3 linked regions of the Homo sapiens genome follow. The protein of the gene in region 3 purifies or fractionates together with the protein of the main gene of each other region. This does not show direct contact. Each region holds a gene or a part of one and is shown on either strand. Other genes may lie near its edges.

Region 1 (5,336 bases), on a different chromosome or scaffold from region 3:
TAATTAATGCCAGAGTCAAATGGCAGGTAAGAATCGATGGAAAATGTGAGTATTTGCAAACATCAGGGCAATTACAGTTTCCAAGGGAACTGAGAACAACATACGCTGCCCAATCATTTTCTGTACCCCAATGTTTTTTTCGATAACTCAAAATATGATAAAGAAATTGATAAAGGGCTGAAGACACAATCAATTACTTAACAGGAAAATGAACAAAAACAACATATTAAATGAATACATCATAGAATGTAAAAATTTTCAAGAACTCTTACAAAATTCACTGAAAGCTCTGGTTAAATTCCCCCATTAAAATAAAGAAAAAAAGAAGTACTATTTCATTTTAGCTAAATTATATGTAAATTTAAAAGTACAGTGGCAGTGGCTCATTCTTACAATCCCAGCTGAGGGAGGAGGATCACTTGAGTCCAGGAGTTTAAAATCAGCCTGCGCAACACAGTGAGTGAGACCTTGCCTCTACAAAAGAAGAAAAAAGAGCCAGGCTCGGTGGCTCACGCCTGTAATCCCAGCACTTTGGGAGGCCAAGGTGGGTGGATCACAAGGTCAGGAGTTCGAGACCATCCTGGCTAACACGGTAAAACCCCGCCTCTAATGAAAATACAAAAAATTAGCTGGGCATAGTGGCATGCGCCTGTAGTCCCAGCTACTCAGGAGGCTGAGGCAGGAGAATCGCTTGAACCTGGGAGGTGGAGGTTGCAGTGAAACGAGATCTCGCCACTGCACTCCAGCCTGGGTGACAGAGCAAGACTCTTTGTCTCAAAAAAAAAAAAAAAGAACAAAATTAGCCAGGTGTGGTGGCACATGCCTGTAGTACTAGCTACTCGGAAGGCTAAAGTGCGAAGATCACTTGAGCACTGGAGGTTGAGGCTGCAGTGAGCTGAGATTGTGGCACTGCACTCCAGCCTGGGTGACAGAGCGAGATCCTGTCTCAGAAAAGAAAAAAAAAGTACAACATAGTAGGTGATTCTACTTAGGGTTAATTTCCTCATGCAAAACACCACTTCAGAAGTTTGTTATTGCAAGAAAATCCATGTGTTCCTTTACTGTATGTAGTAGGGATTGAAGAAAAGAAAAGAAAACTTACCGTCCATGAGGATACCAACGGTGCTTAGTAGTAAAGAACATTTTGCTAAGTTGTTCTATCATAGGTCCTTCCTCAAGGTGTTCAACTTTTTCTTCCAATCTGGTTTTCAGCACTTGATCATGTGTTTCTTCATTATTATGCACAGGATCTGGCCGAGGGATAGGCTACAAAATAATCAGTAACAAACATCATGAAGATGTGGGAATGTTAGCCAGCATTTGTTTGAGATCACAATAAAACAATTACCATATTCAGTAATTCACTATAGTACTTTAGGGTGGGCAAATAAGTTATCAAAACAAAGTTTCACTTAGTGCATTATTCATTAGTCAGAAATATTTTTCTTCTCACAGCAAATTTTAGGTTTCTTTTCCAATAATAAAGTTCTTATTTAGGCCAGGTGCAGTGAGTGGCTCATGCCTGTAATCCCAGCACTTTGGGAAACCAAGGCAGGAGAATCACTTGAGCCCAGGAGTTCCAAAGCATGGGACCAGCTTGGACAACATGGTCAGACAAAAAAAATTTAAAAACTATCTAGGTGTGATGGCATGCACCTGCAGTCCCAGCTACTCAAGAGGCTGAAGTGGGAGGATCACTTGAGACCAGGAGGTCGAGGCTACCTGTGATCACACTACTGTGCTCCAGCCTGGGTGACAGAGTGAAACCCTGTCTCAAAAAAGAGAAAGAAAAATAGAAAGGCCGGGTGTGGTGGCTCATGCCTGTAATTCCAGCACTTTGGGAGGCCAAGGTGGGAGGATCACTTCAGTTCAAGAGTTCAAGACCAGCCTGGGCAACACAGCGAGACCGTGTCTCTACTACAAATAAAAAAAAAAGAAAAAAAGAAAGCCCTCATTTAATGTTCTTATTTTCTGCAGTAATAAAGTACTTATTACTTTAGTTTCTGTTTCTCAAAGGTATAAATTATGCCTATTATTATTTTTTAACTTAAAAGTTTACCATTTACCTTTTATATCATTAAGATGAGAAATAATTAAAAACTTTTCATTGAAAATGACATTTTTTGGCCGGGTGCGGTGGCTCACGCCTGTAATCCCAGCACTTTGGGAGGCCAAGGCAGGTGGATCACCTGAGGTCAGGAGTTCAAGACTAGCCTGGCCAACATGGTGAAACCCCATCTCTACTTAAAAATTAGCTTGGTGCGGTAGCGCACACCTGTAATCCCAGCTACTCAGGAGGCTGAGGAAGGAGAATCGCTGTAGCCCAGGAGGCAGAGGTTGCAGTGAGCCAAGATTGCACCATTGCACTCCAGCCTGGGCGAAAGAGCAAGACTGTCTCAAAAAGAAAAAAGAAAGAAAATGACATTTCTTACATCCAATGGAAGCAGAAAAATTTTCAACATTTTCATTTCAGGTGACTAAAATGCCACCAAACAGTGCTTTATTGTAATTTAAATAGCTTTCCCCCAAAGTTAATGATTACTAAAAATCTTATCTCCTCAACACACATGAATGATATACAACATATTCCACCAGTAATAGTGACTCACTAAAGACTTTAAGAATCAGTGTCTTGGCCAGCTATGTGGCTCACATCTGTAATCCCAGCACTTTCAGAGGTCAAGGTGGCAGAACCACTTGAGCCCAGGAGTTTGAGACCAGCCTGGGCAACATCTCTACAAAAAATTTAAAAACCTCATCTCTACAAAAAATTTAAAAACAAAAAATAAATTAGCCAGGTGTGGTGGTGCATGGCTGCAGTCCCAGCTACTTGGGGTCTGAGGCAGGATGATCTTTTGAGCCCAGGAGTTCAAGGCTGCAGTGAGCCATGACTGCACAGTACCCTCCTGCCTGAGCAAGAGTGAGACCCTGTCTCAAAACAAAACAAAACGGAAAACAAAAGGAATCACTATCTTGGAGGGTCAAGTTACCTATATTTTAAATATTAAGTGATATTAAGGTATGTAACAAAGATTGTAACATTCAATACTATATAACGCTATCATAATGAAAGTAACATATTCAATAATAATATATATGTAACAAGATTGTAACACTGCCTTGCTTTAAAATAACAATATGTATGTATTATAATACAATGAAAATCTGAATTTACAACCAGTAAGAAACAATTCAAACATATTTTCTTTACATTCATACGCTATTAGTGACAACTACATTCTACCACTGTATTAAATATTATAGCATATATTTATATCTAGTTTATGCACATGAAACAAGACCTCTTTAAAAGGCAATGTGGCCAGGTGCGGTGGCTCACATGTGTTAATCCTAGCACTTTGGGAGACTGAGACAGGCAGATCACTTTGAGCTCAGGAGTTGGAGACGCTGTCTCTACAAAAAATACAAAAAATTAGCCAGGCATGGTAGCTCACACCTGCAGTCCCGGCTACTCAGGAGGCTGAAATGGGAGGATCACTTAAGCCTGGGAAGCTGAGGCTGCAGTGAGCCAAGATCACGCCACTGCATTCCAGTCTTGGTGACACAGACAGACCCTGTGTCAATTAAAAAAAAAAAAAAAGGCAATGTGGGCCACGTGCAGTGGCTCACACCTGTAATCCCAGCACTTAGGAAGGTCAAAGTGGCAAAGGAATGCTTGAGCCTAGGAGGTTGAGACCAGCCTAGGCACCATGGTAAGACCCCCCATCTCTGTTTATATATATATATATATATATATATATATATATATATATATATATATATGTGTGTGTGTGTGTGTGTTTTTTAAAAAGCAATGGAGGTGGCACAATTAAGTAAAGTCATGGGCTGCATAAGAATGTTTTGAGGCCGGGCGCAGTGACTCATGCCTGTAATCCCAGCACTTTGGGAGGCCATGGTGAGCGGATCACATGAGGTCAAGAGTTCATGACCAGCCTGGCCAACATGTTGAAACTCTGTCTCTACTGAAAATACAAAAAATTAGCCAGGTGTTGTGGTGCATGCCTGTAACCTCAGCTACTCGGGAGGCTGAGGCAGAAGAATCGTTTGAACCCAGTAGGCAGAGGTTTCAGTGAGCCAAGATCATGCCACCGCATTCCACCCTGGGTGACAGGGCAAGATTCTGCCTGAAATAACAATGTTTTAGTCAACAATGTACAGTGATGAAGGACAGTGTATACTACAGTGGTACCATAAGATTATCATGAAGCTAAAAAAATTCCTGTCACCTAGTGATGGTGCAGAACGCCATAGTGCAATGCATTGCTTACATGTTTGTGGTGGTGCCAATGTAAACAAACCAACTGCACTGCCAGCTGTATAAAAGTATAGCACATACAATTATGTATAGCACATAATACTTGATAATAATAATAAATAACGGCAGGCTACAGTGGCTCATGGCTGTAATTCCAGCACTTTGTGAGGCTTGAGCTCAGGAGTTCAAAACCAGCCAGAGTAACATGTAGTGAGACCCCGTCTCAACCAAAATAATTAAATAATAAAAATAATAATAAATGACTAGGCAACTGGTTTATGCATTTACTATACTATATACTTTTTATCATTATTTTAGAGCGTACTCCTACTTGTTAAAAAAAAGTCAATTGTAAAACAGCCTCAGGCAAGCCCCTCAGGAGGTATTCCAGAAGAAGACACTGTTATCATAGGAGATGACAGCTCCAGGCATGTTACTGTACCTGAAGACCTTCCAGTGGGACAAAATGTGGAGGTAGAAGACAGTAATATTGATCATCCTGACCCTGTGTGGGCCTAGACTGTGTTTGTGTCTTAGTTCTCACAAAAAAAGTTTAAAAAGTGCAAACAAAAATTTTAATACAAAAAAGCTTATAGAATAAGGATATAAAGAAAATATTTTTGTATAGCTGTACACGATATTTTAAGCTAAGTGTTATTACAAAAGAGTAAAAAAGTATTAAATTTTTTTTAAGTTTATTAAGTTTAAAAGTGACAGTAACCTAAGGTTAATTTATTATTAAAGAAAGAAAAATATTTTTTTAAAAATTTGGTGTAGCCTAAGCATACAGTGTTTGTTTATAAAGTATACAGCAGTGTACAGTAATGTACTAGGCCTTTACACTCACTGACTCACCCAGGGCAACTTCCAGTCCTATAAGCTCCATTTTTGGTTAAGTACCCTATACAGGTATATTACATTTTATCTTTTATAGCACATTTTTATTGTGCCTTTTCTATGTTTAAATACGTTTAGATACATAAATATTGACCATTGTGTTACAATTGCCTATAGTATTCACTACAGTAATATGCTGTATACGTTTGCAGCCTGGGAGCAA
Region 2 (5,336 bases), on a different chromosome or scaffold from region 3:
CCCATCCCCAGCCGTCACGTGCCCCAGCTCACCCTTCACAGTGGCTGTGCTGCATCATCTGTGACGCTGCTCGGCTCCTGAGGCCACGTGTGAATTGGCGCGGTTCTCCCCAGCTGCCCACAGCGCACCTTGGTAATCCGTGTCCCGTCCACCCTGTCCTCTCTGCCCTCCTCTCGTGCTTGCGGCTGCAGCATTGCCGAGCACCTTGTCCCGTTGCTTTGTGTGTGCCCTTCTTCCAGGGCATGATCCGTAGGGTCACATGTGTGGCTGCAGTCCGTGTCTCTTTGTGCATGCCCAACACGAACGCCACTGTGCTGCCAACTCAGAAAGCAGCTCTTCTTGGTGACTGTGGGCCGCCTGGAACAGGAATAAAGTCCTCTCGACGGAGTCTCCTTGGTGATGCTCAGCTGGCAGCTTTCTAGTTAATTTCCTCTTATTTCGTATTGGCTGGCTACATTTCCTTCCGGTCTTTTAAACTAATGCCTGATGACCAAAAAGGTGCATTACTGGAATTAGTTTATCCACAGCAGTTGAAAATAATTTCCTTTCCTTGGTGAACAAATGAGCCTGCGTGGTATGCATGTTTTTTGTTACGGATAAATTTTCATTGAGAAGATTGGTTTGGTTGCCTTCAGACTTGTCTCATTGCCTATAACTCAGCAATGCTGTGTACACAGCTCCCCTCCCCCATTTTTTCTTCTTCTAAAATGCATATGTACAGTTTGCCGTCTTAACCATTTTTAAGTGTACAGTTGGGGACTATTAAGAACATTCATATTGTTGTGCAACCATTGCCACATCCGTCTTCAGAACTCTTTTCATCTTGCAGACATGAAAATCTGTACCCATTAAACACTGACTTCGCACCCTCTGCCCCAGCTCCTGGTCACCACCATTCTGCCTTCTGTCTCTGTGAATTGGATGACTCTGAAGACCTCATAGAAGTGGCATCACACATTATCTGTCTTTCTGTGACATGCTTATTTCACTCAGCATGATGTCCTCAGGGGTCTTCTATGCTGTGGTATTGTAGAATTTCCTTCACTTTTAAGGCTGAATAATATTCCATTGTATGGATGGACCACATTTTGCTTATCCGTTTGTCTGTTGGTGGACATTTGAATTGCTTCCACGTTTTAGCTATTGTGAATAATGCTGTAGTGAACATGGGTGTACAGATGTTTTACTTTTATTTCTTTCTGGTATATACACACAAGTGTAATTGCTGGACCATGTGGTAATTTATGTTTAAATCTTTGAGCAGCTGCCAGACTGTTTCCTCCGGTGGCTGCAGCATTTTCCACCATGAGTGTGTGAGGTTTCTGATTCGTCTGCATTTTCATTCTTCTCTTAGGTTTTTAAAAATATCCCTTATGGCTGGGTGCGGTGGCTCACGCCCGTCATCCCAGCACTTTGGAAGGCTGAGGCAGGCGGATCACCTGAGGTCAGGAGTTTGAGACCAGCCCGGCCAACATGGTGAAACCCCGTCTCTACTAAAAATATAAAAATTAGCCGGGCGTGGTGGCAGGCGCCTGTAATCCCAGCTACTCAGGAGGCTGAGGCAGGAGAATCACTTGAACCCAGGAGGCAGAGGTCACAGTGAGCCGAGATCGCACCACTGCACTCCAGCCAGGGGGACAAGAGCGAGACTTCATCTGAAAAACAAAACAAAACAAAACAAAAGTCCCTTATGTTTCCTTTTTTGCCCCATTAATTGTTTAAGAGTATGTTGTTTAATTTCCACAAATTGGTGAATTTTACAGTTTTCCTTCTGATACTGATTTCTAATGTCATCTGTTGAGTTTGGAGAAGATACTTTGTATGATATTTATCTTTTAAAAACCTGAGTCTTAATTTGAGGCCTAATCCATGGTCTTTCCTGAAGACTGTCCCATGTGCACGTGAGAATAGTGTGTGTTCTGTTGTTGGGTGTTCTTTCTGTGTCTGTTCAGTCTGGTTGGTTGGTTGCATTGTTCAAGTCCTCTCTTTCCTTGTTTAGCTTCTGTCTGCTTGTTCTGTCCATTATTGAGAGAGAGATATTGAAGCCTCCGACTATTACAGAACTGAATGTTTTTCCCTTCAGTTCTATCCATTTTTGCTTCATGTATTTTGACGGTCTGTTAGTAAATGCAGAAATATTTATAATTGTTACATCTTCTTGCTGAACCTTCTATTAATACATATGGCCTTCTTTGTGACTAGTTTTTTTTTTTTTAATTTAAAGTATATTTCATATTTATTAGTATAACCACTCCTGTTCTCTTTTGGTTATTATTTATATGGAATATCTTTTTCCACCCTTTTACTTTCAACCTATTTGTGTCTTGGGCTCTAAGGTCAGTCTCTGGTGAACACATAGAGTTGAATCATGTTTTATTTTTTAAATCTATTTTGTCTACCTCTTTTGATTGAAGATTTTAATTAATTTTGCCTACCTCTTTTGATGGAAGAGCTTACATTTAAGTGATTACTGATAAGAAGGGACTTCTGTCATTTTGCTGTTTGTTTTCTATATGCGGTATAACATTTTTGTCTCTTATTTCTGCATTTTTTTTGTGCTTTTGATTATTTTGGTAGTAAACATTTTAATTCCCTTGTTTCTTTTGCGTATATTCTATAGCTGTTTTCTTTGTGCCTACCATAAAGATTACACTTAACATCTAACATTATCTCGCTTCAGTTTGAATTTATATCAACTTAACTTCAATAACACACAAAAACCGTCCCTATATGGCTTCATCTCCACTCCCTTTGGGTTGTTCATTTCACAAAATTACATCTTTATATATCATGTGTCCAAAATCATAGACTAATAATTGTTTTTTAATGCATTCATTTTTAAAAATTAGGTAGAAAACAATGTGGAGTTAGAATCCAAAGTTACAGTATTAGTAGCTTTTAGACTATTTTTTAATGTATTAGTTTCTTTTTTATTTGTCCCTTTTAACCAGAACAAATATTAGTCTCTTAAGTCATGTACGAAACAGAGTGATGAGTTAAAAACTGAAGTGTTAATGATACTAGATTTTACGATTGTCCATGAATTTACCTTTTTTGAGGCCTTTGCTTCTTCACGTGGCTTCCAGTTGCTCTCTAGCATTCTTTCTTCTCAACCAGTGGGACTCTATTTAAGCATTTCTTGCAGGGCAGATCTTGTGGTAACAAGCTTTTCAGCTTTTGTTTATCTGGGGATGTCTTAATATCGCTCTCACTTTTGAATGACCATTTTGCTAGATTTAAGGTTCTTGGTTGACAGTATTTTTCTTTTAGCACTTTGAATATGTCATCCCACTGCCTCTGGCCTCCAAAGTTTCTGGTGAGAAATCTGATCTGCTCATAATCTTATTTTGGAGCCCTTGTTTCTGACAAGTTGCTGCTTTCAGAATTCTTTCAAAAGTTTGATTAAGTTGTATCTTAGTGTGGACCTCTGAGTTCCTCTTGCTTGGAGGTCATTGAGCTTCTTGGATCTTCATATTCATGTCTTTCATCAAATGTGGGGAGTTTTCACCTATTATTTCTTCAAATAATGTCTTGCCCATTTCTCTCTTCTCCTTCTAAAAGTCCCACTAAGCATATGTTGGCCTGCTTGATGATGTCCACAAGGTCCCTGAGGCTCTGTTCACTTTTCTTCAATCTTTTTTCTTTCTGTTCCGGATACTTGATATTTCCCATTGTCCTGTCTTCACATTCACTGATTCTTTCTTGCGCCTGTGCAGATCTGCCTTTGAATCCCTTTAGTGAATTTTTCATTTCATTTATTGTACTTTTCAGCTTCATATTTTCTGTTTGGTTTCCTTTTGGATTTTCTGTCTCATTATTGGTATTTCCATTTTGCTCATACATGTCTTTCTTCACATCTTTAAGTTCCTTAGGCATCTTTAAATCGTTGTTTTAAAGTCTTTCTCTAGTAGATCTGCCATCAGATCTTTTACAGGAACAGTTTCTTATGTTTTCCTTTGAATGGGCCATACTTTCTTCTTTCTTTGGGTGCCTTGTGATGTTTTTGTTGTTGAAAAATGGACACTTGAATCGAATAATGTGATAACTCTGGAAATCAGATCCCCTTCCCAGGTTGATGATTCTTGTTTTTGGTTGTTGTAGGCTCTCTGTGCCAAGGCACAGCCTGAGGTGTGAACTTCAAGGTCGTGTCAAGTCTTTTCTGAGCCTATGCCTTTGCCTGGGCATGCATTGGCCACTTCCGAATTTTTCCTATAAATGCAGTTACTTTTGAATGTCTTCATTCATAAATATCTGGCTTTCAAGAAGGGGAACAGATGAAGGGGGTGGTGAAGACATTGGCCCTTTAAATTCCCTGGAGCTCTGTGGGGGTGAGGAGGGACCTGTGAACAGGGGAAGATGCAACAGTGGCCACTTACCTCTTCGCACCTCTGTGGTCAGAAGCAGCAGTCAGTGATCTGAGTACAGATCTCCGGTGTGGAGGACAGGGTTCTTTTTGCCCAGCCAGGCTGCAGGCTGTGTGCAGGCAGCTTTAGGAACACATCAGCACATGCACAGCTGCCTGCGGGGTGGGAGGTGGGGCCTCGGTAGCCACTGCCCAGCTGAGAGCTGCAAATGACCACAGTTAACCACAGTTTACCATTTATGCCTTTAATAGACTCCAGAGTTCCAAAGATAGTTACCTCAGACACATCCTGCCATTGCAGTTGTTGTTAGCTAGGGAGATGTGGCTTCCTGCTCTGCCGTGTTCCCAGAACACCGCATGCAGGCAGCCTTTTATGTGGTGGTGGTTGTTTATGTTGTGTCTTGTGCCTTCTCCCTAGTGCCTGAGATTGTGAGGGAGACCCAGGACCTAATTGAACAAGGGGCACTCCTGCAAGCCCACCGGAAGCTGATGGACCTGGAGTGCTCCCGGGACGGGCTGATGTACGAGCAGTACCGCATGGACAGTGGGAACACGCGTGACATGACCCTCATCCATGGCTACTTTGGCAGCACGCAGGGGCTCTCTGATGAGCTGGCTAAGCAGCTGTGGATGGTGCTGCAGAGGTCACTGGTCACTGTCCGCCGTGACCCCACCTTGCTGGTCTCAGTTGTCAGGATCATTGAAAGGGAAGAGAAAATTGACAGGCGCATACTTGACCGGAAAAAGCAAACTGGCTTTGTTCCTCCTGGGAGGCCCAAGAATTGGAAGGAGAAAATGTTCACCATCTTGGAGAGGACTGTGACCACCAGAATTGAGGGCACACAGGCAGATACCAGAGAGTCTGACAAGATGTGGCTTGTCCGCCACCTGGAAATTATAAGGAAGTACGTCCTGGATGACCTCATTGTCGCCAAAAACCTGATGGTTCAGTGCTTTCCTCCCCACTATGAGA
Region 3 (5,336 bases):
TCTTTGTGGCACAAAACTATTATTTATTTATTTAATTTTCCAGTTTTATTAAAGTGTAATTGACATAAAAATTGTGTGTACTTAAAGTGTACAAGTGATATTTGGATATATGTTTACCTTGTGAAATGATTGAATCAAGCTAATTAACATGATCCATCATCTTACATACTATTTTATGTGTGTTGAGAATATTTAAAATCTGTTTTAGCAATTTTCAAATATATAATACATTAACTATAGTCATCATACTGTAAAATAGATCTTCAGGGCTTATTCATCCTATTTAATTGAATCTTTGTTCCATTTGACCAACACCCCTCCATCTTCCTCCCCCAAGCACCCTGGCAACCACCATTTTCTCTGCTACTATGAATTCAACCTTTTAAGATTCCACATATAAGTGGGATTATGCAGTATTTTTTTTTCTGTGCTTGGCTTATTTCACTTAGCATAGTGTTCTCCAGGTTCATCCATGTTGTTATAAACGACAAGATTTTCTTTTTTTAAGGCTGAATAATATTCAGTTGTGTGTGTGTATACCACATTTTCGTTATTCATCCATTGATGGACACTGAGGTTGATTCCATGTCTCGGCTATTGTGAATAATGTTTCAGTAAAAATGGGAATGCAGAGATCTCTTTGACATACTGATTTTATTTCCTTTGGATATATACCCAGAAGTGGGATTGCCGGATCATATGGTAGTTCTATTTTTAATTTTTTGAGAAATCTTTATACTGCTTTTTACAATGGCTGTACTAATTTACATTCCCACTCAACGGTGTTCAAGAGTTCCTCTTTCTCCATATCCTTGACAACACTTGTTATCTTTTGTCTTTTTGATAATAGCCATCCTTCCAAGTGTGAGGAGCTATCTCATTGTGGTTTTTCTTTTCATTTCCCTAATGATCAGTGATGTTGAACATTTTTTCATACATATATTGGTCATTTGTTTGTTGTTGAGAAATGTCAATTCAGGTTCTTTATCCATTTTTAAATCAGGTTTATATTACCCAAAGTGATCTACGGATTCAGCACAATCCATATCAAAATTCTAATGGCATTTTTCACAGAAATAGAAAACAAATCTTAAAATTTGTATGGAACATCAAAAGACCCTGAATAGCCAAAGCAATCTTATCTTGAGCAAAAGGAACAAAGCTGGAAGCTTCACACTACCTAATTTCAAAACCTACTACAAAGCTATCATAATCAAAACAGCGTGGTACTGGCATAACAGTAGACACATAAACCAATGGAACAGAATCCAGAGCTCAGAATTAAATCCATGCATTTACAGTTAATTTTCGACAAAGGTACCTAGAACACACAGTAAGGAAAGGACAGTTTTCTTCGTCAATAAGTGATACTGAGAAAACTGAATATCCACATGCAGAGAAATGAAATTAGATCCTTACTTCACACCATATAAAAAATCAGTTCAAAGTTGATTAAAGACTTAAAGCCTGAAACCATAAAACCACTAGAAGAAAACAGAGAAGTTCCATGACATTTGTCTGAGCAATGATTTTTTTTTAATGTGACCCCAAAGCACAGGCAACAAAAAGAAAAATAGACAAGTAGGATTGCATCAAACTAAAAAGCTTCTGCACAGCAAAAGGAACAGTCAGCAGAGTGAAGAGGCAACCAAGGGAATGGGAGAAAATATTTGTAAATCATATATCTGATAAGTGGTTGATATCCAAAACATAAGGAAGCAAAACAACTCTCAATAGCAAGAAAACAACTCAAAATTTTTAATTTTCATGAAATTCCATTTGTTTCATTCTTTTCTTTCCTTTTTTAAAATTAAACTAAAATTTTGTATAGAGATGGGGTCTCGTTATGTTGTCAAGGCTTGTCTTGAACTCCTGGGCCCAAGCAATGCTCCTACCTCAGCCTCCTAAAGTGCTGAGATTACAGGCATGAGCCACCATGCCCAGTCTTACATATTTATTTATTTTTATTACAAACAGGGCTTCGCTCTGTCATGTAGGCTAGAGTGCAGACATGATCCTAGCTCATTGTAGCCTCAAACTCCTGGTGGCCTTAAGCAGTCTTCTGCCTTTTATCTATTATTTTACTTGTGCTTTTCATGTTATATCTAAGAAACAGTTGTTTAATCCAAGGTAACAAAGATTTATTCCTAAGTGCATTTACTTTTTCCAAGAATACTACAGGTATAACATTCAGTGATCATTACTGACTTCTGAATTTTATCTGTGTGAAGTCCAGATACCCATATTTGACTCTAGACGCAAAATTACAACTGTCTCTAGGATATCATTTAAGCTAAAACATACTAACACATGACTTAACCAGAGTCATTTTCTGAAATTCTTCCTTTTGTTTTCTGTTGTTGGGATTTATTGCATTTCGGTGATGTGAATGGGTTTTAGATCACCTGGGTCATTAATTACCAAATAAGTAGTTTATACAGAAACCAGTACTAAAATTATTGGGTTTTCTCTTTTGATTTAAAGGAGTTGGAATTGTACAAAGAGGAACTTCAGACAAAACCTGCACTCTTGGCAGTTAATAAAATGGACTTGCCAGATGCCCAAGATAAGTTCCATGAATTGATGAGCCAGCTCCAGAATCCTAAAGGTAAACCTATTTATTCATTTAATTCTAATTTAAAGAATAATTACAATGTACAGAGAATGCTGTTATAATCAGTGGAAAACTGACAGTTTCTGCTCTTAAAAGTCAAGTTTGAAGAAAGAATATACAAAACATGTAAATAACATTGTAACATAATAATTACCAAATTCTAGAATGTTTGATATGGACAGTAAATTAAAGGAGACAAAAGAAAGATTAATTTGAACTAAAAAGGTCAGGCTACATGAAGAATAAAACTTAAATTGGGCCCATAAGGCATATGTGGGATTTGAATAAAAGGAGGAAAAAGTCAGCATCTACCTGTGAAGTCTTTCACTTTCATTAACATACTTCACAAGCTCTTCATTCGTCTAGTACTGTACATCATAAAATTAAAGACAGAACTAAGAAGTTCTAAAGAAGTATGTTTCTTGGCAAAAGTAACTCTATAGGTTTCTGAAGAGGATGAGTCTTCTGAAAAGAACTTCATTTTTCCTGTGTATGTGTGACACAATAATAGAAGCTGTGACTCCAAAATGATTTATTTGTCTGGAATTTACTTCCTGGACTATATGTAAAGTAACTTAAAGGGATTCTCCACAGTTTTGAATATTGACATTTGCAGAACACCTTCTATCCTATGGCAATGGTGGTTTCATTCAGAGTCTAGTAGAGAACCTCATGCACAAATGAGGAAAAGTAGGGTGTATGGTATGTGGCTAACATGTTTTTCAATATGTCTCTGTTTTTATTCTTGGTAACAATTGTTGGAAAATAGATTATAGGTACTAAGACTGTCAAACAGCACCAGAAGGTCCTTTCCTCTCAAAAATCTTTCCCCTGTGTAATCTACATGTTGGAGCTGTCCTTGAGTTAATAAATTACTCATGGGATATAAATATTCTCTGATACTAAATAGCCTTCATTCCTAATGACATTTGCTTTGTATGGTCATTAGTTCTTTTTGCTAGTTGATCTTGCAGAGAAGGGAATTTTCAGAGGAAATACCGAAAGTGAGGGTGACTCAGGAGTCTGTAGCTGTTCTGACCTATCGTGAAATAAAATATAGGCCCTTTAGTGATAATCCTGAGTTATCCTCTCTGGACTTTCTTCGGGGCTTTTGAATCTCAGAAAGTAAGCTCCATGTTGTCTTCTCCACCAATCTGTTTCAGTCCAGCCTTTCTAGTTCATATCAGTTAATCCATCTAATCAGTATGCCATCTCCCCAGCCAATCAGTATGCCATGGTGACAGGGAAGAGGTAAAAGTAATATAACAATTGTTAGCCCTTGTGGGGTGATAGATTGGACTCATCTGAAATTATCTTCCCTTGAATTCTCTATAATCCCTCTTCAGTTTTTGTATGGATCCTAGCATCATTGATGATAAACCTATACTTTGGGGAAGTTAAAGGTCTCCAGTGTACTGAGGCCAAGTAGAATGTCTCAAATCATAAATGATGTTATTATTTTTACAGAAAGTATCTTTCAGAGAATCAATGCTGCCTTGCCTTATTTAACCCCCCCCACACACACAAAATTTATTACTTCCTTAAGTAAGTCATTTTTGTGATTCATCTTCTACTCATACTTAGTTTGGTTTAAAATATATTTATCTAACAAGTATGTTATGTGCCAAGAACCTTACCATAATCAATGGTAAAATCCAAAGGCTCTGAGAACTTATTAGAAAAGGTGAAAAAAGGCATGAAAAATGCTGGTGTTGGTTCCCTGCTTCACAAATCAAACCATTAACATGGTTTTAACTAACTTTCGAAAACAATGGAAATCAGCTTTGTTTGTGCTCTTTCTTTTAGATTTTCTGCATTTATTTGAAAAAAACATGATTCCAGAGAGGACTGTAGAGTTCCAACATATCATCCCCATATCTGCAGTTACTGGAGAAGGAATCGAAGAATTAAAGAATTGTATAAGAAAGTCACTGGATGAACAGGCCAACCAGGAAAATGATGCACTTCATAAGAAACAGTTGCTTAATTTGTGGATTTCTGATACAATGTCTTCTACTGAGCCACCATCAAAGCATGCTGTTACTACTTCCAAAATGGATATAATTTAAATATATTAAAAATGGTATTGATGGAACAGTATTTAATGCTTAAAAACAAGGAAATCCTTTCATCTGTGACAACCTGGAGGACATGTTAAGTAAAATAAGCCAGGCTTAGAAAGACAAATGCTGCATAATCTCACTGTGGAATCTTAAGTTGAACTCATAGAAGGAGAGAATAGAATGGTGGTTATCAAGGGCTGGTGGGGCAGTGGAGGATTGAGGAGATATTGGTCAAAATTTACAAAATTTCAGTTAGACAAGGCAACTGAGTTCAAGAGATCTGTTGTACAGCTTGGTGACTGTAATTAACAACAATGTATTTTGAAAGTCACTGAGTAAATTTTAAGTGGTTTTTCCAAAAAAGCACATAAGGTAATGCACGTTAATTAGCTATATTGAGCCATTCCACAATGTATAGATATTTCAAAACATGTTACACATGATAAATCCAGTTTTTCTACGTCATTTTTTAAAATTATATTTAATTTTTTTATTTTGAAAGTTTTTTCACAGATCTTTTTTTTAGTATTATTACCTTCTGATATATGTGTCATTATTGAAGAACCATACCTTTTAAAGTTATTATTTTGTAATTAAGTATGTCAACAGTAAAAAATAACCAGTGGCCAGGCATGGTGGCTCATGCCTGTAATCCCAGC

The links. Proteins that work in one complex are often made in the same cells at the same time.
Region 1: the proteins of GTPBP10 (region 3) and MRPL42 purify together in Homo sapiens (co-immunoprecipitation; one large-scale study listed by IntAct). This does not show direct contact.
Region 2: the proteins of GTPBP10 (region 3) and EXOC3 fractionate together in Homo sapiens (co-fractionation; one large-scale study listed by BioGRID). This does not show direct contact.

Annotation. Positions count from the first base shown.
Region 1 is NC_000012.12:93,483,427-93,488,762, reverse strand, and holds part of MRPL42 (large ribosomal subunit protein mL42 precursor), read right to left. Parts: intron 1,267-5,336; coding exon 1,103-1,266; intron 1-1,102.
Region 2 is NC_000005.10:448,589-453,924, forward strand, and holds part of EXOC3 (exocyst complex component 3), read left to right. Parts: intron 1-4,781; coding exon 4,782-5,336. UniProt on the Homo sapiens protein: Component of the exocyst complex involved in the docking of exocytic vesicles with fusion sites on the plasma membrane.
Region 3 is NC_000007.14:90,380,472-90,385,807, forward strand, and holds part of GTPBP10 (GTP-binding protein 10), read left to right. Parts: intron 1-2,484; coding exon 2,485-2,608; intron 2,609-4,420; coding exon 4,421-4,683; 3' UTR 4,684-5,336. UniProt on the Homo sapiens protein: May be involved in the ribosome maturation process. Complements an ObgE(CgtA) function in E.coli ribosome maturation. Plays a role of GTPase in vitro. When missing, disorganization of the nucleolar architecture is observed.